Homo sapiens: one gene and its partners. The protein of the gene in region 2 purifies or fractionates together with the protein of the main gene of each other region. This does not show direct contact. Each region holds a gene or a part of one and is shown on either strand. Other genes may lie near its edges. The genes, in order: ABCC1, SLC2A2, STX17, DOP1B, DYNC2LI1, FASTKD5 and AGPAT4.

Region 1 (4,259 bases), on a different chromosome or scaffold from region 2:
TGCAATGGTGTGGTCTCAGCTCACCACAACCTCCGCCTCCTGGGTTTAAGCGATTCTCCTGCCTCAGCCTCCCAAGTAGCTGGGATTATAGGTATGTGCCACCATGCCGGGCTGATTTTGTATTTTTAGTAGAGATGAGGTTTCTCCATGTTTGGTCAGGCTGGTCTTGAACCTGCCGACCTCAGGTGATCTGCCCACCTCGGCCTCCCATAGTGCTGGGATTACAGGCGTGAGCCACTGCGCCCAGCCTATTGTTGTTCTTTCTTTTTGAGATGGAGTTTTGCTCTGTCACCCAGGCTGGAGTGCAATGGCCTGATCTCCACTCACAGCAACCTCCACCTCCCAGGTTCAAGTAATTCTCCTGCCTCAGCCTCCCAAGTAGCTGGGATTACAGGCACCTGCCATCATGCCCGGCTAATTTTTGTATTTTTAGTAGAGATGGGGTTTCACTATGTTGGTCAGGCTGGTCTCAAACTCCTGACCCCAAGTGATCCAGCCACCTTGGCCTCCCAAAGTGCTGGGATTACAGGTGTGAACCACCACTCCTGGCCATGATTGTTATTTTGTATTGTTTTGAAATCAGGAAGTGTGAATCCTCCAACTTGATTCTTATTTTTCATGATTGTTTTGACTGTTCTGGATCCTTGAGTTTCCATGTGAATTTTAAAGTTAGCTCATAATTTCTACCTGGCAGCCAGCTGGGCTTTTGATGGGGATTGCCTTGACTCTAGATCAGTTTGGAGCCATCAGTTTTCTAAGTCTTTAACTTATTCAACTCGTTTAATCTTACCTACCTTGGAGGTAGGTCCTACTTTTATCCTCATTTCACAGAGGAGGAAACTGAGGCCCAGAGAGCTTAAGGACCTTGTCTGAAGTCACGCAGCTGGCCAGTGGCCAAGCCAGACCTTGAGCCGGTGGCTCTGGAGCCCGTGGCTCTGGAGCCCGTGTTTGTAACCACTGTGCTGAGCTGCCTCTTTCCCTGGGCTTGTTGTCTTTGACTCTGCCTTCCCTGAAGGGTGACATTCCCTGGCCATGTCCCTGTGGTAGGGGGCTGCATCTCTGGCAGACCCCACAACGGCTTCACCTCCTTGTGTTCCAGGCAGCCGGTGAAGGTTGTGTACTCCTCCAAGGATCCTGCCCAGCCGAAAGAGAGTTCCAAGGTGGATGCGAATGAGGAGGTGGAGGCTTTGATCGTCAAGTCCCCACAGAAGGAGTGGAACCCCTCTCTGTTTAAGGTGTTATACAAGACCTTTGGGCCCTACTTCCTCATGAGCTTCTTCTTCAAGGCCATCCACGACCTGATGATGTTTTCCGGGCCGCAGATCTTAAAGTAAGACCCCTTCCCTCCCAGGTGGGCTCCATTTTCCCTCCTTGGCTTTGATCTTTCAGTTGCATCAGTCATAACCCTGGGGTCATGCTGTGTCCTGAAGTGGGCTCATAGCCAGATGTCTCCATTTTTACTTTAGCTTTTTTGAAAAAAATAGAGACAGGGTCTTGCTTTGTTGGTCAGGCTGGTCTCGAGCTCCTGACTTCAAGCGATCCTCCTGCCTCGGCCTCCCAAAGTGCTGGGATTGCAGATGTGAGCCATGGTCACTGCCTAGCTTTACTTTATGCTTTACTTAATTACCATATTAGTGAAGACCACATCGTTTGCAAGTAACAGAAACCCACTAGGCTCCCCTAAAACCCAAATGGGGAGGATATGGCATTGTCTTGGGAAACCAAGAGCAAGGAAATGCCAGCAGATCTCATGAAAAAACTGCAACCAGGGTTGGGCGCAGTGGCTCATGCCTATAATCCCAGCACTTTGAGAGGCTGAGGTGGGAAGATCACCTGAGGTCAGGAGGTCAAGACCAGCCTGGCCAGCATGGTAAAACCATCTGCTAAAAATACAAAAATTAGCCGGGCGTGGTGGTGCACGCCTGTAATCCCAGCTACTCAGGAGGCTGAGGCATAAAAATTGCTTGAACCCAGGAGGCAGAGGTTACAGCAAGCTGATTGCATCACTGAACTCAAACCTTGGCGACAGAGCAAGACTTTGTCTCAAAAAAAAAAAAAAAAAAAAAAAGAATAAAAACAACAACAAAAAACTGCAACCAGGAACTGGGGAGTCAGAAAGGAAGTTGCCTCTCTCCTACCTGGCTCTCTGCTGCTCTGTGACTCAGGGGCTACACATCCCTTCTCTTTTCCTCCCTACCTCTTTACCTCGTGTTCCCTATGCAATTCCTTTGGGTGACTTGCTGGTGATGAGATATAGCTAGAGCAATTAGTGCACAACCCCAAGGCAGAGGCCTCTTTTATGAGCAGTTTGGGTCACCTGCACAGCCAGATCACCACTGTGGACTTGTTTTTCCATCTATGAAATTGAAGTGATAGTGTCTAGCTCATCTGGCTCAGGAGAAAGTTGCAGTGCCAACACTGAAGCTCTCTTCCCTGCCCCCACGTGTCACAAGTCATTCCAGGCCCTCTCTTTGCTCCTTTGCAGGTTGCTCATCAAGTTCGTGAATGACACGAAGGCCCCAGACTGGCAGGGCTACTTCTACACCGTGCTGCTGTTTGTCACTGCCTGCCTGCAGACCCTCGTGCTGCACCAGTACTTCCACATCTGCTTCGTCAGTGGCATGAGGATCAAGACCGCTGTCATTGGGGCTGTCTATCGGAAGGTAGGGGACGCTGTGCCATTGGCATGTGGCCCGACTTCCACATCCCCTCCTGCAGCCCTGGGTTACTCTGGGGCCAGCGTGGGGATTTCCAGCCCAGCTTCTGGAGCAGTAGGATGAGGGTAGCTTCCGTGACCTTAGGTGGCAGGGACAGCACGCATCAGGCATTGTACGTTAGGAAAGCTGATTTCAAGGGTGGGCGTGTAGATGTCTTTGTGTATCAGCTGTGAGTAATTGAGTTTCTTAGATGGATCAGTGGCCCTTGTTGTGGGGAAATCCAAGTTTGGATCCTCATTCTGCTGTTAACATTCTGTGTTTCAGCTTGTTGTCACTCTTTTTTTTTCGTTTTTTTGAGACCAGGTCTCACTCTCTCCCCCAGACTGGAGTGCAGTGGCATGATATTGGCTCACTGCAACTTCTGCCTCCTGAGTTCAAGCGATTCTTCTGCCTCAGCCTCCTGAGTAGCGGGGACTACAGGCGCCTGCCACCACGACCGGCTAATTTTTGTATTTTTAGTAGAGACAGGGTTTCGCCATGTTGGCCAGGCTGATCTTGAACTGCTGACCTCAGGTGATCCGCCTGCCTCAGCCTCCCAAAGTGCTGGGATTACAGGCATGAGCCACCGCGCCCAGCCTGTTGTCACTCTTAATTTGAACTGAGCAGGTGGCACATTCCTTGCATGGTAAGAGTATGTAGCAGGCATTTGTGTACATCCAATTTCAAAGGACCTAAATTACCTTCTTGATCCCTATAAATTTTTTTTTTTTTTTGTCTCGAGGTCAAGGAAACTGCTTGGCTCCTAGGTTAGGAAGAGACAGTCTTGCAGGTACTTGATGAACTAGAGGAGTGATTCTCAGGCCTGTCTGTGAATTAGACTCACCTGGGGAGCTTAAACTGATGCAGGCCAGGCACTGTAGCTCATGCCTGTAATCCCAGCAGCTTGGGAGACCAAGGTGGGGGAATCACTGGAGGCTTGGAAGTTCAATACCAGCCTGGTCAATATAGCAAGACCCTGGCTCTGCAGAAAATTTAAAAAAATTAGCCAGGTATGGTGGTGCGTACCTGTAGTCCCGTCTACTCAGGAGATTGAGTTAAAAGAATCACTTCAGCCCCGGAGTTGGAGGCTGCAGTGAGTCCTGATAGCATCCCTGCATTCCGGCCTGTGTGACAGAATGAGACCCTGTCTGAAAAAACAAAAAAACTTCCTGACACCTAGGTTGCACCAGACCAGTGAAATTGCGATTGCTGTGGTGGCACCCAGGTGTCATTGTTTTTGTTTTTTATTTATTTTTATGTTTTGAGACAGGGTCTCGCTCTGTCACCCAGGCTAGAGTGCAGTGGCATGATCTTGGCTCACTGCAGCCTCCACCTCCTGGGCTCAAACGATCCTGCCACCTCAGCCCACCACGTAGCTGGGCCCAGAGGCATGCATCACCACGCCTGCTAATGTCTTAGTGTTTTTAAAACTCACGAGGTGATAGTGTGCAATCATGTTTGAGGGCTAGGGACATTTTCCCCCACCAGGGCACGTTTGGCAATATCTGGGGGCATTTTCGGTTGTCCCAACTGGGGGCGAGGGCATGTAGTGGGTCGAGGCCA
Region 2 (5,004 bases):
GGGTCGCGCTCCCAATGGGAGAAGAGAATGGTTTCCTGCCGCCGTGCTCCGCGCCGGCAGGCCGGGGCTGAGCACAAGAAGTTAAAGGCTCACTGGCCGCCCGCGCACTCAAGGCAAATTCCGTTTCTGAAAAGGCAGGTTCAAAAGACAAAGGTTGGTAAACCACACCGGTATCATTTACGACGCGGCACAGAGACGCTTTCCTGCAGAATGTCATGTCACTGGCAAATGCCATGGAACCGCTCCTGACTGTGGACCGCTCTGGCAATGGGGCGTGCTCATCACCAGCCAAAACTGATGCGGAAAGTCAGCGTGGCTAACTGGGCGCTTTAAAGTCTGACTTCAAAGCTGCTCCCCAAAGCTTGGCACTATGACACAGAGCACCTCATGTTATGACTAAACGAGTTAATCCATGTCAAGTGCTGAGAGCAGCACCTGGCACCCGGCAAGACCTCAGTAAAGATTAACCATCATTACTATTAATATTTGCTCACGCTTTTCCACTATGAAATTATTGTATTGTGTCTGCATTACATATGTCTCATCTTATATGTTATAAACACCTAGAAAGAGGAGGCTGTGACTTATTTATCTCAGTCATCTCGGAGCATGGAACTGTGCTGGACTCAGTAAAAGTTTGTAGTTTGATTGAATTACCTTCTCAAACCAAACATTTCAGGTGTGTCACCTTGCAGAGGTGACAGAAATGAAAACAGGGTGGCAAAATAAAAAGGTGAAATCTGAATCTCCTCTAATCCTTCATTTTCTCACCCTGTTTCTTCATAACACCCCTCATTGTGTTGCTGCTTGTTACATTTTTGTTCCGCTGGGAACTGGTTCCATTTGAGCCTCAGTGCAATCTGTGGCCCCAGTTGCCACACACACTTAAAGCTCAATAAATTTGATATCTCCTGAACCCCCACAGGGTTTGGATATCATAAGGGATACTTAGGCCCAAGATCAAGCCATATGAGCAGGTTTATTTGAGAACTCTACGTTAAAGCCTCCAGCAAGTGCTTCTTGACATATATGAAGCAATAATAATAACAACCGCTATTTGCTAAGTACTTATTATATGTTGAGATATGCCAAACACTTTCACATATTATCTCATTTAATCCACTCAACAAAACAAAATGTGTGTTATTTCTATTTTATCAGGCAAAAATAAAAAACTAATCAGAGAAAAGTCACAGTGAGCCACTTGCTTAAGGTTATACTCCCCAGTAAAATGTTGAGATTCAAACCCAAGTCCCTAACAATCCAAAGCTCATCCAGGTAACCATTCAAGTCAACAATGGTCTCCGGCCACACAGCTCAGCTCTAAACAGAAACACCACAGCACTAATTATCTGTGGAGCAGAGTGCAGTGTGCCTCCCATGCTCCACAGCACAGCACGGCAGCTCAGCATATCTCATCTTCTACAAAAGACTCCAAAGATTTCTCTTTTCACCAGCTCCCAATTACTGCCACATAACACATGCCTTGAAATGTGATTGCCTCTGGTTTGTAACTTATGCCTAAGGGACCTGCTCCCATTTTCTTTCCTAGTGGAACAAAGGTATTGAAGCCACAGGTTGCTGAGGCAAAGCACTTATTGATTAGATTCCCATCAATATTCAGCTGCCGCTGAGAAGATTAGACTTGGACTCTCAGGTCTGGGTAGCCCAACTCCTCCCTCTCCTTGCTCCTCCTCCTGCAATGCATAACTAGGCCTAGGCAGAGCTGCGAATAAACAGGCAGGAGCTAGTCAGGTGCATGTGCCACACTCACACAAGACCTGGAATTGACAGGACTCCCAACTAGTACAATGACAGAAGATAAGGTAAAGCAGCATTATATTCATTTCAAGTCTGGTTTTCAGGAGATAGTTAGGGGAATACAGTCAAGTCATACAGAGGATTTGGGGGAGGTTGGGTGTAGCTACCACAGATCAAAATTAATTCTCTTTACTTTGCCAATTGAAGAACTGTTTCTTATTCAGTAATTGGGGTTTTAAGGATTTTTGCTCTGTTAACTGACTAGTCTGCATAAGTTTTTTCAAGTAATTGTGCATAACCATATTACTAAAGAAATATGTCCCCTCCTAACCAAAAAAAAAAAAAAAAAAAAGGGGGCAGATTGACCTAAATTTAATCATGAAAACTCATCGGGAATCTTCAAAAACGTCAATGCAGGAGAGACAAAAGAGGTAGAAGGGTTGTTCTCTAGATTAAAAGGGATTAAGACAAACTGACAACCAAATGCAACAAATGATTTAGATTGTGGAAGGAAGAAAAAAATAGCAATAAGGGAACTATGGAGACGTTGGGAAATTTTAAATATGGGCTGCATCTTAAATAATATTACTGTATCAATTTCACACTCTTGGATATAATAATGGTATCTAATTATGTAGGAGGATGTCTTTGTTCTTTGTACATGCTAAAGTATTTAGGGGTGAAATGACACAAATATCTACAGCTTATTTGTAAATGGTTCAGCCAAAACAACACACACACACAAACACTACAGAGCGAGAGATCAACAAATTGGTGAATGTTAACCAGTGGTGAATAAAGGCGAAGGTTATGGAATGATCACTTCACTACTGTTTCAACTTCTCTCTAGATATGATACTTTAAAAAAAAACTTAAAAATATAAAGGATATAGTGTCCTTGCTCCCTTATACGTGGTTTCTAAACTCACCCACCCCTGTACACACAATCATATAAGTTGATCAATCTGTGCCCTGTAGGGTCTCACCTTTAAGTTCTCATCTGGTGCAACTTACTCTGCTGAACATTCCTTCATGTCATTAGATGGCATGGTTAGCTGCACTGGCTTTGGAGTCAGCCAGACTTGGATCTGGGTTCTAGCAATGCCACTAAACTGCTGTGAGGCCTGGGTTAAGTTATTTAACTGAGCTTTGGGTTTTCTCTATTGTGAGAAAACAAAAACATATTAGGATACAATATACCCTTTATAGGCAAAGAAACTTGGGCTCAGTGATATAATATGGGATATTCAGGGATTATACTAGTACTTTAGAGTTAGGGAGTAATTAAATGAGATTATATTAGAGAGGCTTAGACAACAATTTTAATGTTAATAGTTATATAATTATTAATAGTGTTAAATACATATTTAAATAGTATTTATAAATTATAAAAGATAAATTATATTATAATGTATAAACACTTTAAATACATATTATATAAGCACCATTTATATGTTTGATATTTAAAGTTAAATATAAAATGCTATTTATATAGCATTTATATAGTATGTATTTAAAGAATAATTAGCACATCATGATTTCATGAGTATTATAGCCCAGGATAAAGCTAAAGTAGTTAGAACTTTAAGGTCAATATAAAGACAAACATTAAGTTAACAACTACATAGATGGTATGTAGATTTGGCAAAATTCATGAAGGTAGTAATCAAATAACTAAAGTTTGAAAGCTACTGCAAAAAGGAAGGTAATGTGCTTAACATAGTGTCTGGCACATCGCAGATGTTCAAGATTCATTCAAAACTATCATTAATTTTCTTAGGGGCTTTTGAAATTACGTTGTAGATCTTTTCTTGATAACCAAGGAACTGCCTAACAATGGAACCCAGAAAGAATGAGAACTGAGGTAGTGCAATGTTTTTCAGCTTTGTGAATCTATCCAGACTTTGAAAGAAGTAGGATAAGCAAGGAACTGGGGTCAAGAGACCTGAGTTGTCACACTGAATATGCCCAAAATGCTCACAGAAATCAGACAAATGACATAAACAACTTGGCCTGTGAGACCTCAGTTTCTACAACTGAAGAATGGAGGAATTAGACAAGAATCCATTGTTCTCTAAGGTCTCTTTCAACTTAAAAATTCTGTGACTTGATAAGCCCCTGGCTTTTTCCAAAGTTGCATGCAAGATCACCTTTGGTTTAGGTTTTGGAGACATGTAGTTTAAAGAAAAGGGTATAAGCTTCTCCTCCCTACCTAGTCAATCAGTAATTGCTGGAAAAATCTGCTCTTCAGGTTAGCAGTGGCGTTTAAGACCATCAGCTCTCGGTTCCCACACTAGAGTATCTGTCACCAGCTGTGTAGTGTTAGGTATGCTCCTTAATCCTCTCTGATCCCTGGCTTCCTCACCTCTAAAATAGGAATAATTTCATGTACTTTGTGGTATTGCAAAGAGTATCGGTAAAGTATGAAAAGTTGACACATGGCTGTTTGACAAAAGAAATGAATGAGATGATAAAGACATGATTAAAGATGCATTTGTTCTGTAGCCCTTTTACTGTTTATAGGAAGACCACATTATTTATCTTAGTTTTTACAGTAATCCTATGCATTAACTAGTTTTATACCCATTTTATAGGCAAAGAAACTTAGGCTCAGTGACGTTAGGAGCCTAGCTGGGACTCTTTTGGAGCTTTTCTGACTCCCACATCTATTTGTTTTTTTCTAATAGACCCTATATGACTTATGAGCCACAATATAAACACTACATTGTTTTATGTTGAAGTTCAGCCATTTGCTTATTCTACCCTTCCACATTTATCCAGCAGCATATTTTAAATTGGATATGAAATCTAGTTTCTCTAACTTAAAGTTATTAAGCTCCTAATGAAGGTAGCATTTTTTAAAGTGCAAGCTGAACACCTTATAGCCTATGAGGAAGTTAGGAGAAAAGGCTTGAAGATCTTCTGCACTTACTAGGTTATGTGGACTTTGGACAAGCTGTTTACTCTTTCCATGTGAGCTCCCCCATATGTGAAATGATAATAATAATTCCTACCTACTGGGTTGTTGAGAAAACAGGCAAACCATCTAGAACCTCAGAACTTGGACAGGTTAAGATCCTCTCTAATTTCTTGCTATTTTCAGTAGCACTTATGTACTTCTTCTTGTGTCAACTTCTTGGACATTAGAGTGGATGAATGAAGGTTGACGGGGCTTATTAAGACTTGGTCGTGTTCAGAAATTTCCCCTTAGAAACAAAACCTCCTTTGACCAAGTCTAGAGCC
Region 3 (4,259 bases), on a different chromosome or scaffold from region 2:
TCTCCTTTCTACTTTTTTTGCAATTGTTTTTACTATTTTCTAGTTTCTTGCAATGGATTTTCAGTCTACTAATTTTCAACCTTTTTTCTTTTCTAATATATATATATGCAGTTACAGCTATAAATTTGTATTGCTTTGGCTGCCTGTAGGTTTAAATATGCATTATTTTTCTTTTCATTCAGGTCAAAGCATTTTTTTTTTTTTTTAAGTTGGAGTTTCACTCTTGTTGCCCAGGCTGGAGTGCAATGGTGCAATCTTGGCTCACTGCAACCTCCGCCTCTTGGGTTCAAAAGATTCTCCTGCCTCAGCCTCCCGAGTAGCTGGGATTACAGGTGCCCACCACCACACCCGGCTAATTTTTTGTATTTTTAGTAGAGATGGGGTTTCGCCATGTTTGTCAGGCTGGTCTCAAACTCCTGACCTCAGATGATCCACCCTCCTCAGCCTCCCAAAGTGTTAGGATTACAGGCATGAGCCACTGCGCCCAGCCAGCATTTTTTATTTCTATTGTGATTTCTTTGACTTGTGGGTTATTTAGAAATATGTCTTTCTTCATTATTGGTCATGAAATGTTTATAGATATATTTTATTAATGATTTCAAGTTTAATTTTATTATGATCAGAGTATATGGTCTGTATGATATCAGTGTCAATATTTTTGAAATTTGTCAAAACTTCCTTTAAGACTTAGTGTATAATCAATTTTTATAATTGTTCTCCATGTGTATTTGTGTGTTTTTGACATGTGTATTCTCACCTTGTTTGGTATAATGTTCTATATAATTTATATCTAGTTTGTGTTAAACTTATTGTTCAAATCCTCTATATTAACTTAACATCCTTTTGTCCATTTGTTCTGTTAATTACTTAAAGGTGTTAAAGCTTTCCCTTATGATTGTGGATTTGTTTCAATTTTTCTTTATAGTTCTTGTCCGGTTTTGCATTATATGTATTGTGGGTATGTTATTAGGTGTACTTAACTTAGGTATTATTATATATTCCTGGTACAGATATTATAAAGTGATTCTCTTTATTTTTAGCAATGTTTTGGCTTTAAAGTCTGTTTTTTCTAATATTGCCGCAGCAGGTTTTCTTTGGAGAGGAGGTGTTAGGGTTAAAGTGGTTTATCTTTTTCATCTTCTTACATTGAACCATTCTTTTCTTTATGTTTTAGATACAATCGCTTAAGTTTTTTAAAATTCAGTCTATAAATCTTTATCCTGTAACTGGAATATTTATTTCATTTTTATTTAATGTAATTATCGATATATTTAGGTTTAAATCTTTCACCTTATTGTGTGCTATTTCTTAAACATATTTTTTAAATCTCCATATTTACTTTCTTTTGTATTGATCTTGTTTTTTTTAATTTATCTAATTTTTTCCTTTCTAGTTTAGGAACTACATTTGAGCCTTCTCCAAGGATTTCATCAACTGTGGAACAAAAATTTTTTTTTTTTAAATGGACAGTTGCGGCCGGGCGCGGTGGCTTACGCCTGTAATCCCAGCACTTTGGGAGGCTGAGGTGGGTGGATCACCTGAGGTCAGGAGTTCGAGACCAACCTGGCTAACATAGTGAAACCCCATCTCTACTAAAATACAAAAAAATTAGATGGGCGTGGTGGCTGGCGCCTGTAATCCCAGCTACTCGGGAGGCTGAGGCAGGCGAATCGCTTAAACCTGGGAGGCGGAGGTTGCAGTGAGCCAAAATCGTGCCACTGCACTCCAGCCTGGGCGATAGAGCAAGACTCCATCTCAAAAACAAAAACAAAAACAAAAACAAAAAGAATGGATAGTTGCATCTGTACTGACTCTTTTGCTTGTCACTGTTCTCTATAAAAGTACAGTATAACAATTTATATAGTATTTATATTATATTAGGTATTATAAGTAATCTAGCGATAAAGTATACAGGAGGATATTCATAGGTTTTACACAAATACTACACCATTTTATGTAAGGCTTTGAACATCTATGGATTTTGGGTATTTGCAGGGAGTCCTGGAACCAATCCTCCATGGATACCAAGGAATAAATGTATATACTTTTACTAGAAATTACAACGTACATCTTTAACTTAGAAGTACAGATAATATCAGTTCCTTAGACTATTTTAGTTCCATGTATGCCCTGCAACTTAAATGCTACTTTTATATAAATATTTCTAAACACCACAGACATTAGTATTATTGTTTTAGTAGAGTTACTGGTCATCTAGATTTACCCACTTTTTAGCATATTTTCATTTCTGTTCATTTCTTTTTGCATTTCCAACTTTTTATCTGGGATTAATTGTTATTTTTGAAGATCACCATTTAATATTTCTCTTACTGTGTGTTATTGACTGAAGGCAAATTCTCTCAGCTTTTGTTTGTCTAAAAATATTTTTATTTTACCTGTGGTCTTGAAAGATATTTTTGCAGCATATAGAACTTTAGGTTGATAGTAATTTGCTTTCTATACTTTGAATATTTTGTTCCATTGTCTTTAGGCTTTCGTTATTGCTGTTGAGAAGTCGTATTATAATCTTACTGTTTCTTTGCAAGAAACTCTTGTCTCTAGCTGCTTTTAGACATCTTTTCTCCTTCTTTTTCTCTCTTCTGGCTAGGTGTATTTTTCCTTTTATTTATTCTTCTCAGGATTTGTTGACCTTGAATTGTGGATGGATGTTTTTCTTCAATGTTTTGAAAATTCTCAGTCATTATCTATTCAAATTCATTTTCCGTCTTCTTCTGGAATTCTAAGTAAATGTATATTGTACCCTTTTCTAACTATATCTTCTGTATTTCTTAACTTTTCTTCTATATTTTTTACTTTCCTTGTTTCTTTTTTACATAGTTTCTTCAGATCTGTTTTCCAATTTATATCTTTCTTGAACTGGGCCTAATATGAAGCTAAACTCAATTATTAAATTCTTGTGGACATTATTTTAAAATTATAGAATATTCATTAAAAAACCTATATGTTGCTTTTTATAGTTTCCAATTGTCTGCTAAATTTTCAAGCTTTATTTTTATGCCTTTGAACAAAATAACTATAGTTTTGTAGACTACATTTGCTCATTCCCTCATTACATGTCCTTTTGGATGTTTCTGTTGCCTGTTGTTTTTGCTGTTTCTTCCTCATGCTGCATATGTCCTCATGTGCTTGGTAATCTTTGATTGGTGGACATTGTATTTGAAACATTATTTATAGAAATTATTTGAAGCTAGGGATGATGTTATCTTCCTCCAGATATTTTCATTTGCTCTTCTAAGCCGCTGGGGGCACTAACTTTCCAAGATTATCTTTATCCAATTTTAGAGCTTAAGGTTTTCTGTGAGCTACTCGAGACTGGAGGCCAGTCTGTAGTTCATGCAAGGGCTGCTTTATTTTAGGATTACCTGTGTTCCTAGGGTGGAGCTCTGACGATCCCAGCCAAAAGTACCAGAGTCCTTATACTTAGCAGGTCTTGGCATTGAAATTTTAATCCAAGCTTTGTGAGTTTATATTCTGGTATGCAAATACTCCCAAAGCAAATGTGGTCCTGAGTTCAGGACTCACCTCTCTAGATTTCCATCTTTGCCCAATTCTTGTCCTATAGTTACTTACTATCTTGTTTGCTTTATGGTACTTTTCAAGTTTTTTTTTTTTTTCCTATTGGTTTGTTTTGTGATTTGATTTTTGTTCAACTTTTGAAGTAGCCATTAGTGGGAAGGTTAGTCTGAATCACCTAGCCTGCTGTTTTCAGAAGCAGAAACACCTGACTTTATGTTCTTCATATATGGTTTTACCATCCTGTTCCCTCTGTTTGATTTTAGAGAGATTCCCTAGTTGCCCTATCCAATGTAGTAGCTCCTAACTACATGTGACTGTTGAGCACTTAAAATGTAGCCAGTTTGAACTGAGATGTGCTGTGAATGTAAAATATATACCAGATTTCTAAGACTTACTACAAATAAAACAATGTAAAAGATTTTAAGTTTTATAATTGCATATTAAAATAGTATTTTAGCTATATTAGGTTAAATAAAATATTATTAAAATTAATTTCCCTTGTTTTTACTTTTTTAATGTAATTTAAAAAATTTTTAAATTACATATGTGGCTTGTGTGTGTGATTTGCATTATGTTTGTGTTGGATGGTGTTTGCTATGTAATAAAGTAGTTAGAACACAAGATCTGTGGTCTGGATTTGATTCTTGCCTATACTATTTACTAGCAGTGTAATCCTGGGCTACTTTTTGAACTTCTTGCTTTAATTTTCTCTTCTATAAAAT
Region 4 (4,259 bases), on a different chromosome or scaffold from region 2:
CACTATTCTCTGACTTGCTTTACCTTTTTTTTTTTTTTTTTTGAGACAGAGTCTCTCTCTGTCGCCCAGGCTGGAGTGCAGTGGCATGATTTTGGCTCACTGCAACCTCCACCTCATGGGTTCAAGCGATTCTCATGCCTCAGCCTCCCAAGTAGCTGGGATTACAGGCACCCACCACCATGCCTGGCTAATTTTTTGTATTTTTAGTAGAGATGGGGTTTCACCATGTTGGCCATGCTGGTCTTGAGCTCCTGACCTCAGGAGATCCACCCACCTCATCCTCCCAAAGTGCTGGGATTACAGGCATGAGCCACCACACCTGGCCTTATTTTATTTCTTCATACCTTTATTTTACCCTCAGCTCAGTTTCCTCATTCATATTTGTTAATTTGTCGGAAACAGTTCTCGCTCTGTTGTCCAGAGAATTGTGGCAGGTGATCCGCCCGCCTCAGCCTCCCTAAGTGCTGGGATTACAGGCTTGAGCCACCACGCCTGGCAGAAACAATTCTTAAACAACTTTTTTGAACTCTAAAGGGGTTATATATTTAGACAAAAACACAAGAAAAATAGGCCCAAAAGCCAGCCTCCCCAGAGAGCATGTGGGTGTACCAGCCTCCTCTTTGCTACCCACCGCTCTCCTTCTCCTGCTTTGGGTGCCTCCTAAATTTCATTATACACTTAACACAGGGATTCTCTAGTCTGGAGAGTGATGATTTTGAAAAACAGAATTGAAATACATTCATGATTTCAACTGATACTTAAATAGCTTGGTGTTAAGAGATGCACAATTCACATCTTTTTATTTTTTACAGAGTCCAGTAAAAGGTGAAAACGGCAAAATAATTTTGGAAACAAAGGCAGTGATTCCCGGTGACGAAGATGCTTCGTTTCCCCCTCTGAAGTCTGAGGACAGTGGGATCGGGCTCAGTGCCTCGTCACCGGAGCTCTCTGAGCACTTGAGGGTTCCTCGAGTTTCTCTGGAAAGGGACGACGTTTGGAAGAAGGGCGGGAGCATGCAGAGGACGTTTCTTTGCATCCAAGAGCTAATCGCCAACTTTGCCAGCAAGAACATTTTTGGAGTACAGCTGACAGCGTCAGGAGAAGAAAGCAAGTCCGAGGAGCCTGCAGGGAAGAGGGACAGGGATGGGACGCAGAGCCTGGCAGCCAATGATTCCAGCAGGAAGAACTCTTGGGAGCCCAAGCCCATCACTGTGCCTCAGTTCAAGCAGATGCTGTCAGACTTGTTCACAGCACGAGGGTCTCCATTCAAGACAAAAAGTTCAGAGTCACCATCGTCTTCGCCCAGCAGCCCTGCCAGGAAAAACGGGGGAGAATGGGATGTTGAGAAGGTGGTCATTGACCTGGGGGGTTCCAGGGAGGAACGCAGGGAGGCCTTTGCCGCCGCCTGCCACCTGCTGCTGGATTGTGCCACTTTCCCTGTCTACCTGTCCGAGGAAGAGACCGAGCAGCTCTGTGCAACGCTCTTCCAGCTGCCAGGTGAGAGGCAGCCCTGCCGAAGTCCCTCTTTGGGAATCATACGATGAGGCGATTGACGTGGGTGGAATATCCCCTATCCACAATGCTAGGGACCAAATGTATTTTGGATTTCGGACTTTTTTCAGATTTTTGGAATATTTGCCTTACACTTACCGATTCAGCATTCCTAATCCAGAAATCCAAAATCCAAGAGCTCCAGTGACTGTTTCCTTCGAGCATCATGTCAGTGCTAATAAGGTTTCAGGTTTTGGATTTGGAATTTTCAGATTAGAGATTCTCAACCTATATTTAAAGACTAGCTCAAATTGTGTAAGCCAAGAAGGTGCTATTGGCCTCATTTGTTCCCTTCCTCATTTGTAATTAGTACATTTTTGACTTGTGTCTCACCACATGGCAAAGTGGTAAGGGTGGGGCCTATGTTTTTAAACCCTGGGTGTCCAGCACAGCCCATCAGAAGACCTAGAACATGAGTGGCATTCAGTGATAGTAAATAGACTATTTCATGATGCCTGTTGATAAAGTTTTTTTTGTGTTGGGTTTTTTTGTTTTTTTTTTTTTTTTGAGACAGGGTCTGGCTCTGTTGCCCAGGCTGGAGTGTGGTGACACCAACTCAGCTCACTGCAACCTCCGCCTCCTGGGTTCAAGTGATTCTTCTGCCTCAGCTTCCCCAGTAGCTGGGACTACAGGCACGTGCCACTACGCCCAGCTAATTTTTTTTTTTTTTTTTTTTGAGACAGCGTCTTGCTCTGTCGCCAGGCTGGAGTGCAGTGGCGCGATCTTGGCTCACTACAGCCTCCGCCTCCCGGGTTCAAGTGATTCTCCTACCTCAGCCTCCCAAGTATCTGGGGTTACAGGCACACGCCACCACACCCAGCTAATTTTTGTATTTTTAGTAGAGACAGGGTTTCACCATGTTGGCCAGGATGGTCTCAATCTTTTGACCTCGCGATCCACCCGCCTAGGCCTCCCAAAGTGCTGGGGTTACAGGCGTGAGCCACTGCACCTGGCCCCCTAATTTTCATATTTTTAGTAGAGATGGGGTTTCACCATGTTGGCCAGGCTGGTCTCAAACTCCTGGCCTCATATGATCTGCCCGCCTTGGCCTCCCAAAGTGCTGGGATTACAGGCATGAGCCACCGTGCCTGGCCAATATTTTATATATTGGTTTGCTAGGGCTCCTCTAACAAAGTACCATAAACTGAGAAATTTGTCTCATAGTTCTGGAAGCCAGAAGTCCAAGATCAAGGTGTCAGCAGAGCCATACTCCTCCTCTGAGACCCTGGATGGAATACTTTTTGGCCTCTTCAGCTTCTGGTGCTGGCCGGCAACCCTTGGAGGGCTCCTCACCTTGCAGCTGCATCAGTCCCGTCTCTGCCTTTGTCTTCACAGGGTGTCCTCTGTATGTCCTGTCTTCCCTTGACATGTCCCTCTTACAAGGACACCAGTCATATTGGATTAGGGCCCACCCTAACAACCTCATCTTAATTTGATTACCTCTGTAAGGACCTTATTTCCAAATAAGTCTCACCAGCGGGAGGTTAGCGCACTGCTGTCCAGGTGGATTTCTCAGGTAACTTCCCAGATCTAGGGTGCTGTAGAATCTGCAGACTGGGGACCCATTCTCACGTGGTTCTGCTTGTTTCTGCCTCTCCGGCTGGCTTCCTTTCAGGAGCCGGTGATTCCAGTTTTCCATCTTGGCTGAAGTCCCTCATGACTATTTGCTGCTGTGTGACTGACTGCTACCTCCAGAACGTGGCCATTTCCACTCTGCTGGAAGTGATAAACCATTCCCAGTCCCTGGCGCTTGTCATTGAAGACAAGATGAAACGCTATAAGAGCTCTGGACACAACCCTTTTTTTGGCAAGCTGCAGATGGTGACGGTTCCTCCCATTGCTCCAGGGATATTGAAAGTCATTGCAGAGAAAACAGATTTCTATCAGGTATTTCCCACTGGGAACACTCTTCTTATGGCCTCCTTCTCCCCCTGAGCAAAACTCAGAACCGTATTGCTGGGGATGGGGGCAGTGGCCCACTTCTCTGAGAGTGATATTCTATAGGGCACTGGGCAGAGGCAGTAGCCTTTGGTCTTCCTCTCCCAGCATGTAACTTTCACCCTCCAGGAAAGCTACAGTGAGAGCAACTGGGGCCCCAGTATTCTGGGCCTGCCAGGACTGAGTGGAACCCCTGCCTGGGAGTGGGGTCTGGGTGGAGGCAGGGAGCCCATGACTCCTCCACTGCACTCACCTGGATTTAGCCTCTGCCACATCCAGCAGAGGGGTGGGAAGGTGACGTGCTGGTGGCCTGCCCCTCCCAGGAGGTGCAAAAGCCCTTGACTGGGAGCTGGGGAAAGAGAGCACCCTTTTGCTTGGCCACATGCACCAGAGTGGATAGTGACGTTTCCATGGAGCTAAGCTGGGGAAGGAAGGAGATGATGAGCAGGTCATGGCTCAAGTGCCATGACTCTTGCTGCTTTGACCGAAATGTCGTAGGTTTTCCGGAATAAATGTTTCTTTATTTCCTGAATGTCCTTTGGATAATTTCCAGACTCTAAATGGTTGGTTGTTGTTGGTTTTAAAATAATTTTCACCAGTTATGGTTGTGTTGCTTGGGAGAGGGTCTGTCTGTGGAACTCCTCACACCGCTCAGCTTTGGTTCCATGTGGGACACCATCTACGGTGTCAGGTCCTGGGGGAGCTTTTACTTAATTGCTCATTGACTTTTTTTGTTGTTGTTGTTGAGACGGAGTCCCGCTCTGTCACCC
Region 5 (3,495 bases), on a different chromosome or scaffold from region 2:
GTTGCCCAGGCTGGTCTTCAACTCCTCGCCTAAAGCAATCCTCCTGAGTTGGCCTCCCAAAGTGCTGGGATTACAGGCATGAGCCACTGTGCCCAGCTTCTTTTCTATTATTTTTGTTAAAGCAAAAAAAAAAAAAAAAAAAAAAAAAAAAAAGGTTACAGTTAACATTTATTTTTAAGGTCTTCTTGGCCAACCACAGTTATCTTCGGAAAACTTTACTTGCTATCCCTTTAAAACATCAATGCATTATTTTGAGGCCGTATCATTGTCATGTTGAAGATCTAGTGGACTTGGTGGTTTTTGTCTCATATTGGTTATTCCTTTTTCTCCCTCTGGCATGGCCTGTGTGATAGCCCTAGTTTTCTCACAGTCTGCTGTCTGCAAAAGGGAGATACTACCAGCAAAGAATCTCAAAACAACATTTTCACCTTTGTCATTGGTAAAAATAATTTAACTTCCAGTTAAAGACAAAGTTTGCAGTAAACAATTTGTTTATTCTTTATGAGTTAATCTTTAAAACCGCAAGTGGTAGATAACTGGTGAACTGAATTAGCTTTATTAGAAAAAAATAAAACAAGCTGTAAAGACTACATATGATTATTACCATGAAAATTCTTCCTAGAATCCAATGAGGAAGTTAAAGGAAAAAAAAAAACACACAAGGAAAAATTCTTCCTAAGTCTATATACCATTTTGAAACATTTAACATTTAAATTTTAGTAACTTAGGGTATAGGTATGAAAGGTACGCTCTGCAATTTTTCTGAAAATTAGAATGGATTTTCTTTTCATAGCAACTGTGAACTTCAGTTATGTTAGCCAAAGGGCATTGATTGCCTCATCTTGCAGAGTAACCACGTTTTATTTGAAGTAGTGACAACCTTTGTACAGTTATTTAGACATTGAACAACATGTAGGAGGCCAAGAGGCATCCCCTTAGATGGTCCCTTTTACATGTCAGTTGCCTTGTGCAGGATAGCCACCTCCACTAAAATTTATTTATGAATTGTAAAGGTAAGATATACTCCTTGTGAAAAAATTCAAGAGCTATAGATAGATGTATATAAAATAGAAAATGGAAGTATCCTGCCCTCTCCCTATCTGTGTGCTTTTTTCATGTGGCACACATTATGTTTTCATGTGGCCACTGTTATTTTTGCTGGCTGCCTTGGAAGCCACCTGTGAATGAACGCTAATTATTTAATCAGTCCTTACTGGGGGACATCAAAGTTGTTTCCAGTTGTGCTGAGACAGAGCAATGGGTTTCCTTCTTTTACATCCTTGTGCATTGCTCTATTGTTATGGATGATAAATTTCTAAAAGTAAAATCACTGGGACAAAGGATACACACACACACACACACACACACACACACACACACTTTTTTGTGACAGGATCTCACTCTGTCACCCAGGCTGGAGTGCAGTGGCGCAATCACAGTTTACTGCAGCCTTGGCCTCCCAGGTTCAAGCGATCCTCCCACCTCAGACTCCCAAGTAGCTGGGACCACAGCGCACACCACCATGCCTGGATAATTATTTTTCTCAGTTTTTGTAGAGACACGGTCTCCCTATGTTGCCCAGGCTGGTCTCAAATTCCTGGGCTCAAGCAATTCTCCTGCCCCAGCCTCCCAAAGTGCTGGGACTATAGGAATGAGCCACCGCACCCAGCCTGGGTATGTATTTTTTAAATATTTTGCTAACTTCAACCAAGTTTTTGATTAGAGCTGAACAGCAAACAATTAAAATAAGATCACTTTTGAATACTTGAAGGATGACAGATGTCTAGTTCATTAGTTGAAAGACAATTCATATGTATTATGTAGTTTATGTACATAATTTTGTCTGAAAGTTTAATAAATTCATCTCTGAGTGCTGCTTAGCCACACAGAAACTCTGAAGACAGTATTTCTAGAAAATAAGTCCTAAGCATAATCATTTACAAAATAATTGGCAAGAAATATTTAGAATGATAATGCTACTAAGGATTCATTGATATATCTAAAAAATGAGAAGGCAGTTTTAAGGTGCCTCCTTGAATTAGTAAAGTTGATTTTTCTTAAAGTGATACATATTTTTGTTTTAGGAACTGGAACAGTACAAAAGAAGTTCTTCCAAGTCTTGGAAACAAATCGAGCTTGATTCTTGAACCTATTTCAATTATTGTATATTTATTTCTTCTTTTCCAAATACAAATAAGATTATACTGTGAATTAACTATTGTGGCAATATGTGAAGAAAGTTAAACTGTATAATTTGTTAAAGGACAAGCTGGATTTCTTGGACTAGTGCATCTCCCTGTATATCTTGAAGCTTTTTAAAAGGAAAAATTATTGTAGAACCACGTGTAATTTTTTTTAAAATAAAAGAATCTTCTACTACCTACCTCTAACATGTTTAAGTGGTATATACTCAATTCAGCATGTATAAGTTTCTGCTTATATGTTTTTAGGAATATAAAAGTAAGAGTATTTGGTTACAGTTTTAAATGCAAGGTTAAGTGCCCACGTTAGACACATTCTTTCTAAAAGGCATTCTCAGCTGTAGCTGGGAGGAAACCGGAATTGGGTTCACAGATGTCAAAATTTTACTCTTAACAGTGAGGCGCAAGAAGCACCTGAAATAGGAGATGCACATTCCCAGGTCCCCACACCTAGAGTGTCGCCATCAGTGGTCTGGAATGGGGCATTTTTAATCAGCACCAATTTCACCCTGCTGTGAGACTGACACATTTATTTTAAATACCACTTTTTGAAGAACAGGCACATCTAAGGAGATATCCTATCAAGAAGCAGGACAAAACATCATGTGTTGCGGATAACCAGGATTATTTCCAAGGTGGGATAGCCTTTAAGAAGCCATTCCAATCTGTAGATGTGTGTACCTGCTAGCCAAGTTCATTTTGAGTAAGTATAATTGCTATGATTAAAAATGATTTATTCTATGTTCTTCCATGTCCACATACAAAATATATTGACTCCCAGCTTCAGATAAGCACATTTACTACCCCAAGGGAGTACTGTCTGAGCAGATAGCAAGCCATCTGCTTATTGCAATGAACTAGGACTTCATAAATTATTTGCAGTACGTATGGTTCTGACACCCTTGAGAACAGAATTTTCAGCATGTTTCCAAGGAACCTCAGTCTTTAGCACACGTTTCTTGCTGAGTGCTATGGAAAAAGAAATCCCTTTAAATTTACAGTGAACATTATGATCTCAGAAACATCACTGACTTGGTGGGAAGAAACAGCCTATTCCACAAGAGTAATAGGAATTGTTATTATGTAATTTGATTTTCTTACACATCACTGTCCATTTTTGACTTGAGACACAAACTGTCACATGTTGAAAGCCATTGTGTTTTTCTAAGGTGCTATCACTAACATTTAATAGCTTGAAGTCACGTGTGATGTCAGTTTTCCAAATGTTTCTGAGCTAGAATGAAATTCATCTGCATATGAATAGTAGAAAATGTTTCCACTTATGTTGTACACC
Region 6 (4,606 bases), on a different chromosome or scaffold from region 2:
CTAGGACTGCGGGGGCACACCACCACGCCTGGCTAATTTTATTTTTTTGCAGAGGCAAGGTCTCACTATGTTGGCCAGGCTGGTCTCAAACTCCTGGACTCAAGCAATCTTCCCACTTTGGCCTCCTAAAGGCTGAGATAACAGGCATGAGCCACCACATCCAGCATGAGATTCTTATTTTAAAACAAGGTATAGGCCAGCCACAGTGGCTCATGCCTGTAATCCCAGCACTTTGGGAGGCCAAGGTGAGTGGATCATCTGAGGTCAGGAGTGTGAGACCAGCCTGAACAACATGGTGAAACCCCATCTCAAATAAAAATGCAAAAATTAGCTGGGCGTGGTGGTGGGCGCCTGTAACCCCAGCTACTCAGGTGGCTGAGGCAGGAGAACTGCCTGAACCTGGGAGGCAGAGCTTGCAGTGAGCCAAGATCGCGCCATTGCTCTCCAACCTGGGCAACCGAGGGAGACTCCGTCTCAAAAAAAAAAAAAAGGCCAGACGCGGTGGCTCACACCTGTAATCCCAGCATTTGGGAGGCCAAGGCAGGCGGATCACCGGAAGTCAGGAGTTCAAGACCAGCCTGGTCAACATGGAGAAACCCCGTTTCTGCTAAAAAGACAAAAATTATCCAGGTGTAGTGATACGCGCCTGTAGTCTCAGCTACTCGGGAGGATGAGGCAGGAGAATTGTTTGAATCTGGGAGGCGGAGGTTGCAGTGAGCTGAGATTGTGCCACTGCATTCCAGCCTGGGTGACAGAGCGAGACTCCATCTCAAAAAACAAACAAAAAAACTGGCTTTAAAAAAAAAAAAAATCTGTAAGGGTGGGGGGAGGGTCTCCAGAAAAGAATAAAATTTTTAAAAATTGGCTTTATATAATGTCTGACTATACTTTTATTCTAAAAACTCTGTGACATAAGGCTGGTAAACAGAAAGAAAAATCCAACAAGGACTTACTTGACCGTAGGACATATTAAGATGTTTATTATTTACTAAGAGTAACATGTATACATTTGCAGTAATTTGTACAATCCAACTACATTACAATTCACAGTAACATACACTAGCTCTAACCTGCCTTGGATACAATTAAGTCTCCTCAACACACTATTTTATCGCCAAACTTACATTCTGGCTTTTATAATCATTTTGCAACACCTGGTACAGTATACACCTATAGCTTTGCCATAGAAATGCCCCTAAATGCCCTTCAGAGAGCAGAGGTGAATACTTTCTCATGAAGAAACGCCAACTTTTCTAAGCGAGTTCGTTTCAGTAGTGGGAGCCATTCCCAGTAGGATAACTCTACCACACGGTAGCCAAGCCGAGCCAGCTGCCGCCTCTTCATATTGTGCAGTCCAAGGAGATCCCTGGAGCCATAGCAATACTGGTTCCTGTTTGTGAACTGAACAGCCAGCTTCATTCTTGGGGTCTGCATGCAGGCTGCGGGGCACAGGCCAGCCATCTCCATGGCCCCTGATTTATCTGCTACATTGCAAAGGAAGCCCCCCAGAGGTACAGCTGCCTTATTCTCCAACTCCATGGGCTGCTGCCCAGGCTCTGACTCAGTTTTGCCCTGGAAATGTCCTCTTGCTTTCCCTTTTAGTAACTTATTCATCAAATCATCTGTAAGGCTGACTCCCACATGCTCAAGCCTTAATTTGGCTACATTTTCAGCCGGCGTGGCTTCTCTATTAAATGGTAATGGCTTCAGGTTAACATCAAGCTGGACCTCTAAGTCAGAAGATCGGGTATGAGGCAAAATCATATGGTGCTTGACGTACTGGGGCCCCCCCAGCATGGTCTCCAGTAAAAAGACAGTTTCTAAGAATTCAGGCTTTGAATTCATATCCTTCTCTGCTAAATACCACAGCAATTCAGACCCCTCTTGCTGAAGGTGAGTACTAAGACGATTGCCTCTGTAATCTGGACACTCAATGCCAACTGTACCATCGAGGGTATATAGTTCCTTAAGGAGGTCAAACTTAGTTCTCTCCTGAGCTAACCTGACAAACCCTGGACTGAGAGCGAAATCAATTAACTCTACTGGAAAGTACTCCAAAAATGCCAGGCCCAGCAGGCAGGTGGGCAGGTGTTCTGGGTACTGGTTGAATTCAGGCATCTTTCTGTGAATCTCACTTATCAGGCTGGAGTAAAATTCTTCTGCATTGGGTGGCTTATAATTCAGAGTTCCAAATGACCACAGAATCTTGGCAACATCTTTACTTCGACAGTGTGCCACTCTAGGAGGCAAAGACGCAGCCACTGCATTCATTACTCCTTCATTCAGGAAGCGTAAGGCCGAGCAGTAAAGAGTCAGGTGCATGACACCTTGAACTCCCAGGGAAGGAATTCGCTGAGGAGCTATCTCTCCAATCTGCTTCATGAAATTGATGTGATCCACGTGAGTGAAACGGAACATTTTAACAATATTCACTAAGGAGCGACTACTCAGATGCTGAATGTTAGCACAAGCCAAGTCTCCAATTTTCCGCATGACAAATTCAGAGAGATTAGTACTTGATTTAAAGAACCCCAAACAGATGGTACCAACCTCCTCCAAATTGATCAAATCTATATATTTAAGGATCAATGATTCCAATTTTTGCATTAGGTCCTGGGATACCTGACGATTTTCACCTATAACATAAATTAAGTGAACTAGCTGAGACAAGGATAGATCCTTCCAGTGCAAATTAAGATAACTAGAAAAAATGTTTAAAAACCTAGGTACTTTGCGGCCTAAGTACCTCCAGAGATCAGCCACCAAAAGGAGCTGATCCATATTCATCTCCCATACCTGATGGCAACACTTGGTCTCATACACATCTAGCATTGAATGGGAGTGAGGGATTCCTAAAATGACAAAAGCTTTCAAAACATTGATCAGATCTTGGGTATCAAAGAGCTGTATCTTCTTCACACTCAGCTGGCAGAGCAGAGCAAAGCTGGTACTGCCCAGCAAGACAGGATGCTGCTCTGCAGGCAAAGAGCTCAGCTTACACAAATAATCAACAATGACTTGAGCCTGGAGATTATTTTGATTAACTCTGACTTTGTGCAAAATTAGTTCACCTTCTGAAACAGACAGGAGCTGAGAAGTCTCAGATGCATTATAGCTGTGAACACGGTATTCTGGTCTTAGCTGTAGGAAAACTCGCATGTTTTCAAAGGAATCAAACACTTCTACGTCCTCTTCATCAACTCCTGTGGCCCTGGGTGAGCCCAGCTGCAATGTACTGGCCTTAGAGGAAGAAGTCTTGCTGAATTCCAAACCTGGGTGGGCACTGCTGGTTGTCAGGATTCTCCGAGAAGAGAAGGTGCTACATATGTTCTTAACTTTTTTGGCAGAATGGCAGAGGCTAATGTGTTCTGGAGGGTCCTGTCCCCCATGCTGTGTGCTGCTCACATTCCAGTATGACACACTTCGGACTGCACCAAAGGCAGAAGGACTGCAAAATGCTCGGTATCTTACAAGTTTTAATGACTTGAGAGTAGCTGCCATTCTGGTGTCAGTATTGATCTCTTTGGCAGTCAGAATACAGTCCTCACAGATTTGACCAGGCAATTTCTTGTTTATATGGTGCTTGATTAGAGCTGGACGGGGAGGTGTTCCACAAAAACTGCCTGGAAATCTTCAGCATATCACAAGAGCCAGGGATCACAAATGACTGGGTCAGAATTGGTGCCAGATACTGAAAAAAGGGTAGATGAAGAATGAGTGGCTTCTACCTATAAAAGCATCCAAATTTACACATTATAAAAAACAGGTTGAAACTACACTGCTGTCTACTCAAATAAGTTCAATGCTAGTAAATGCCCAAACCACATGACAGCATATATCAAGGATAAATTCTGCGGTCTGTGTAAAGGCCTAGGAAAACCCCCAACCCAGGGTACCCGTGGGCAGTTCCTGGACTGCTGCTCACCAGACTTCCTTCACTGTACAAGGCAAGCAGTGACGGCTAAAGAAGAGACGGTGCTCCGCTAACATTTGATAGGAAGAAGGAAGGCAGATTTCTAGAAAGAAGGCTGGGAACAAAAGTGAGCAACTCCTTCCATCTCTTTGATATCAAGGCAAACAGGTCCTACCTGAAGAATGTTTATAAAAACTGCTATGCTAACAGCACTAAGTAAAAAGTGGGATCTGGTATAAAAGATAATTAGTTGGCTGGGTGTGGGTGGCTCATGCCTGTAATGCCAGCACTTTGGGAGGCCGAGGCAGGCAGATCACTTGAGGTCAGGAGTTCAAGACCAGCCTGGCCAACAAGGCGAAATCCCGTCTCTATTAAAAATACAAAAAATTACCCAGGTGTGGCAGCACACACCTGTAATCCCAGCTACTCAGGAGGCTGAGGCAGGAGAATCCCTTGAACCCAGGAGGCAGAGGTTGCGGTGAGCCAAGACCGTGCCACTGCACTCCAGCCTAGGCGAAAAAGTGAGACTCCATCTCAAAAAAAAAAAAAAAAGATTTAATTAGTTATACCTACGATAACCCTCCCTGTTCTTATAGCGCAAAACTGTTAATTCCAAAATTCTGTCATTCTAATGCTGTTCTTTTACTTTTTAGAAGATGCCTACTCTCCTCTTCAGGAAGCTTATAACAGAAT
Region 7 (4,259 bases), on a different chromosome or scaffold from region 2:
TAGACAAGCTGGCTCCTGTTCCTCAAATAGACCCTACTATACAGTCTTTTGAAAGATTAAGATGTATTTTAGTGTTAAAAATTAAAATATTAAAACAACACCCACACCGTGTAAGGGAAAAAAATAAGAGGTTGGAGAAGAAAGCACCTCATCTCCTTAAGGCAGGTCCAGGGGCACCCCCATGCCCCGCCATGCTGAGGCTGGCCAAGGGTCCGGGGCAGCTGCAGGTGCCAGGGCCCCTGGTAGGGCGGGGGCAAGCTCAACCCTTCTGCTTCAATAGCAGGCAACAGCAAGGCACACACACACCCACGCCGTCTTGGAGAGGGGCCCCTTCAGGATGAAGGCTGCAGACAGGGCCACCCAGCTGTGTAGCGAGTACCAAAAAAAGAAGCCTGAGCACTGCCCAGGGTGCAGTGTGGACACAGGGCGTCTCCAGGAGCATCTGAGGGGTGCAGTATGGACACAGGGAGTCTTCAGGAGCATCTGAGGGGTGCAGTGTGGACACAGGGAGTCTTCAGGAGCATCTGAGGGGTGCAGTGTGGACACAGGGAGTCTTCAGGAGCATCTGAGGGGTGCAGTGTGGACACGGCGTCTCCAGGAGCATCTGAGGAGCTGACTGCCGTGCCCCATTACTCTGAGCCTGCGCCTGACTGCATTCTTCCCTGAAGGACTTTGTGTTTGTGTTCTTTACTCCTCTTCCAAGGCCACACGGTCCACGTTTTACTCACTTCTTTCTGCTCTACAATAACTCCACTCTCACTGTTACTGTTACGCTCCATGCAGGAGCCCTCCAGTTTGTAAATGACCCATGGGAGATGCGTGCCTCCTGCTGGCTGGGCTGGATTCGCCCATCCCAGGCTCTTGCATCCATGTCCCAGTTAGTTTATCGACCGCGATGCTAATGCTAGATAATCCTGTGCATCATGATTTGGGGGATTTCATTCACTTATTCGTCTATCCATTCTTAAGCATGTATTATAAATGGACTGTTTTCCAAGCCCCATGCCCAGTGCTGAGCACATCAAATGATTAAGTCTTGGGCCCTGCACCCAAGGACCTCACCACATCTGCCCGCTCCAGAGGGTGTAGTTGAAATTGCAACTTCTGAGCATTAGGCCCTGCTTTCCAGCTTCCTATATTAAACTGGGCTCCCACGAGGGTCCTGCCCATTCTCTGGTGTAGGCAAATCCTGCCGTCAGAGGAGAGGGCGGGGATTTTCTCACTGCTCTAACGCTTGCACCAAAAGCAGTGCTGAAACGTGTTGGGCACTCGATACTCGAGCTCTTGCGTCTTCCAGGCTCCTGGTCTGTTCTTTATAAAACTTCGCTGAACATGCCCTGTTAACTTCCTGTCCCTTATTCACAAAAGAATCCTCTTTACCTGGGGGTCAGCAGAGGAAGCCAGGGATTTCTCTGAGTCCCTGCGAACGGCTGTGCATGGCTTGCCAAATCATTCACCTTCAGGGTCCAAGGAGGAAAACCCCCACCAGAGCAGCCTTGCTTTGTCTTAATGTCACATGGATGTCCACACTCAAGGATGATTGTAAAGCCGGCAGGATGATGGCACCTCAAACCCGCCAGCCAGCTCTGAGCTGGCGCTTGTGATTTGCGGCCACGGGCCTTCTCACTTGCTCTGTGGGAAAACGGCCCTGTAGTCTGTTTGGGCTACTCCTAACTCTGCTCTCCTTGTCTCTGCAGCCTCCGTGGGAGTTCGATGGATGATTGGTGTGACGGAAATTGACAAGGGCTCTGCCTACGGCAACTCTGACAGCAAGCAGAAACTGAATGACTGACTCAGGGAGGTGTCACCATCCGAAGGGAACCTTGGGGAACTGGTGGCCTCTGCATATCCTCCTTAGTGGGACACGGTGACAAAGGCTGGGTGAGCCCCTGCTGGGCACGGCGGAAGTCACGACCTCTCCAGCCAGGGAGTCTGGTCTCAAGGCCGGATGGGGAGGAAGATGTTTTGTAATCTTTTTTTCCCCATGTGCTTTAGTGGGCTTTGGTTTTCTTTTTGTGCGAGTGTGTGTGAGAATGGCTGTGTGGTGAGTGTGAACTTTGTTCTGTGATCATAGAAAGGGTATTTTAGGCTGCAGGGGAGGGCAGGGCTGGGGACCGAAGGGGACAAGTTCCCCTTTCATCCTTTGGTGCTGAGTTTTCTGTAACCCTTGGTTGCCAGAGATAAAGTGAAAAGTGCTTTAGGTGAGATGACTAAATTATGCCTCCAAGAAAAAAAAATTAAAGTGCTTTTCTGGGTCATCTGTGGTGTATGTTGACATGGACCGCTGCCCCTCCATCCTGCCCTTGCCCGTGGCTTTGGTGTTTCAGATCCTACTCACGGGAGGCAGCTGCCGCGGAGGTGTGGGCAGCTGAGAGGGGTGGGCAGGCCAGCACAGCTCCTGGCAGGAGACACAGGTCCAGGAGCCCGTGAGCATTTGTGAGAGCAGAGATGGCAAGCACGTGCGTGGAGACCAACGAAGCGTGTCCCTGGCACACAGCAAGGGAGAGTTTCGCTCGGTCTCTGCAGTGCAGTCTCCTGGCGTAAGTCTTGAAGATGGACCCAACTCCCTGAAGAAATGGATCTTGAAATTGAACACAAACATCATGAACGTACAGCCTGGGCATTCTGCAGTGATTTGTGAGATGAGCTTGCATCGACTGTTCCTCTCAGCAGTGACAGCCAAAGTCACCCCTGATAAAATGCAGTTTCACTTTATAAAATGCCTCGCCCCTTCCCAGCATGTAGAGCTTGTCTGCAGCCCTAAAGGAGCCAGGTCCTGCTCTGATGAGGGTCAAATCAGAGCCGACATCCCATGTACAAAAAACCCCCAGGCTTCTGCCTTCCTTCCGGGCTCCTGTCTGCTCCCATTTTACTCCACGGAATAGTTCTGCCCTGTAGCATCTCCAGCGGCCTTTGCAGACTGCTGTCAGCCAACAGGTGCCAAAAATGCAAAAGAAGAAGAAACTAAAAGCAGTGCTATTTTTGCAGAACAAATGCTAGCTATTAAATCATCTTAGGCCAAGACACCAATGGCACTTGGACCGATAGGTATTTGGAGCATGAGTTAGGAAGGATATGTCTTTCTCCAGGTGCGCAGCTGAAAGTTGCTGAGAAAAGCTGCCTGTGTTGCTGTGGTAACATGAGAAGGAATGAACAGCTCTATACAAAAACTGGCCACACATTATAAGGCCTATTCTATGCAGTTATGTTTTTGGCTATTTGCTCATTTAGTCATTGTTTATCAACCAAACTAGGTAAGCCAAGGAGTTACAAGACAGCTCTAGAGAAGCTCCCTCTGCTTACAGGACAATAATGCATTGTTTGTTTGTTGATACAAATGAATTATTTGAATCCACAGAAGTGAAAAAGGGAAAAAATCCTGGCTGACTTGTGGGAAGAGCGTACTGCAGAGCCTAGGGCCTGAGTTAACTCGCTGGCGGCCCTGCAGGCAGGCTTGATGGGAGCGCCCAGCACATCTGCCCACCCTGCACAGGGCATGAAGCACCGTGTGCAGAGATCTGTGGGCAAAAGCCCAGGACGTGACCTTAGGCAAGAGGGGTCCTTGGAGAAGTGGAGGTGTGCATGGTGTGTAGCCTTGCGTGTCTGTGAGCACGCCCTAGTGGACCTGCGCCTGGATTATCGGGCCAGTCTCTCGGAGGGGTCCGTGATGCTGAGTTACGCCATTCACCTGAACTCTGCAGCTCATCGGCTGTAGGATTTGGGTGAGACACTTTTCCTTGCTGACTCATTTCCCCATCTGCAAAATGGGGGTGACGATATCTACCTCTTGGGGTGTGTCAAGGGTAAAAGAGCACACTTTAAGAATCCTAAAGCACTAAGCCAAGGATGAAAGACTAGAAAGCTGCCTCTATGTTGCTACTCTCAAAAATGCTCAGAAATTTTCTTGTCGTACTAAAAATGTGTTATTTTTCTCATTTTCATTCTTCCATTCAACACAGAAGTAATCTAAGTAAGTTCTAAAAACATAGATCCGGGGGCCCACAGACATTCAATTTTCTTCTGAATTGGCTCTGGTATCACACAACACACAAGCAAGCAAACAGCCTGCCTGCTAGGGCCTTGGGTTCCAGGCTGGAGGAATGCAGGCAGAAATCTCTTAGGAAATAACTAAGTGAGCGCCAAGTTTTGAATTGCCTTAGAGCCGAAAGAGAATGTGGCGTGCTGGGGAGAGATCTGGACCTCTTTCTCATCAGTCATTTGACCTGTCCACGAAGAACAATTTTGTTATGCAGCCTGGG

What was found.
Region 1: the proteins of SLC2A2 (region 2) and ABCC1 purify together in Homo sapiens (affinity purification with mass spectrometry; one large-scale study listed by BioGRID and IntAct). This does not show direct contact.
Region 3: the proteins of SLC2A2 (region 2) and STX17 purify together in Homo sapiens (affinity purification with mass spectrometry; one large-scale study listed by BioGRID and IntAct). This does not show direct contact.
Region 4: the proteins of SLC2A2 (region 2) and DOP1B purify together in Homo sapiens (affinity purification with mass spectrometry; one large-scale study listed by BioGRID and IntAct). This does not show direct contact.
Region 5: the proteins of SLC2A2 (region 2) and DYNC2LI1 purify together in Homo sapiens (affinity purification with mass spectrometry; one large-scale study listed by BioGRID and IntAct). This does not show direct contact.
Region 6: the proteins of SLC2A2 (region 2) and FASTKD5 purify together in Homo sapiens (affinity purification with mass spectrometry; one large-scale study listed by BioGRID and IntAct). This does not show direct contact.
Region 7: the proteins of SLC2A2 (region 2) and AGPAT4 purify together in Homo sapiens (affinity purification with mass spectrometry; one large-scale study listed by BioGRID and IntAct). This does not show direct contact.

The regions. Positions count from the first base shown.
Region 1 is NC_000016.10:16,043,351-16,047,609, forward strand, and holds part of ABCC1 (multidrug resistance-associated protein 1), read left to right. Parts: intron 1-1,099; coding exon 1,100-1,330; intron 1,331-2,485; coding exon 2,486-2,663; intron 2,664-4,259.
Region 2 is NC_000003.12:171,023,478-171,028,481, reverse strand, and holds the start of SLC2A2 (solute carrier family 2, facilitated glucose transporter member 2), read left to right. Parts: upstream 1-1,761; 5' UTR 1,762-1,811; coding exon 1,812-1,826; intron 1,827-5,004.
Region 3 is NC_000009.12:99,944,326-99,948,584, forward strand, and holds part of STX17 (syntaxin-17), read left to right. Parts: intron 1-4,259. UniProt on the Homo sapiens protein: SNAREs, soluble N-ethylmaleimide-sensitive factor-attachment protein receptors, are essential proteins for fusion of cellular membranes.
Region 4 is NC_000021.9:36,229,638-36,233,896, forward strand, and holds part of DOP1B (protein DOP1B), read left to right. Parts: intron 1-812; coding exon 813-1,497; intron 1,498-3,166; coding exon 3,167-3,438; intron 3,439-4,259.
Region 5 is NC_000002.12:43,807,621-43,811,115, forward strand, and holds the end of DYNC2LI1 (cytoplasmic dynein 2 light intermediate chain 1), read left to right. Parts: intron 1-2,084; coding exon 2,085-2,147; 3' UTR 2,148-2,390; downstream 2,391-3,495. UniProt on the Homo sapiens protein: Acts as one of several non-catalytic accessory components of the cytoplasmic dynein 2 complex (dynein-2 complex), a motor protein complex that drives the movement of cargos along microtubules within cilia and flagella in concert with the intraflagellar transport (IFT) system, facilitating the assembly of these organelles.
Region 6 is NC_000020.11:3,145,570-3,150,175, forward strand, and holds the end of FASTKD5 (FAST kinase domain-containing protein 5, mitochondrial), read right to left. Parts: intron 3,692-4,606; 5' UTR 3,502-3,691; coding exon 1,207-3,501; 3' UTR 950-1,206; downstream 1-949. UniProt on the Homo sapiens protein: Plays an important role in the processing of non-canonical mitochondrial mRNA precursors.
Region 7 is NC_000006.12:161,134,073-161,138,331, reverse strand, and holds part of AGPAT4 (1-acyl-sn-glycerol-3-phosphate acyltransferase delta), read left to right. Parts: intron 1-1,697; coding exon 1,698-1,792; 3' UTR 1,793-4,259. UniProt on the Homo sapiens protein: Converts 1-acyl-sn-glycerol-3-phosphate (lysophosphatidic acid or LPA) into 1,2-diacyl-sn-glycerol-3-phosphate (phosphatidic acid or PA) by incorporating an acyl moiety at the sn-2 position of the glycerol backbone.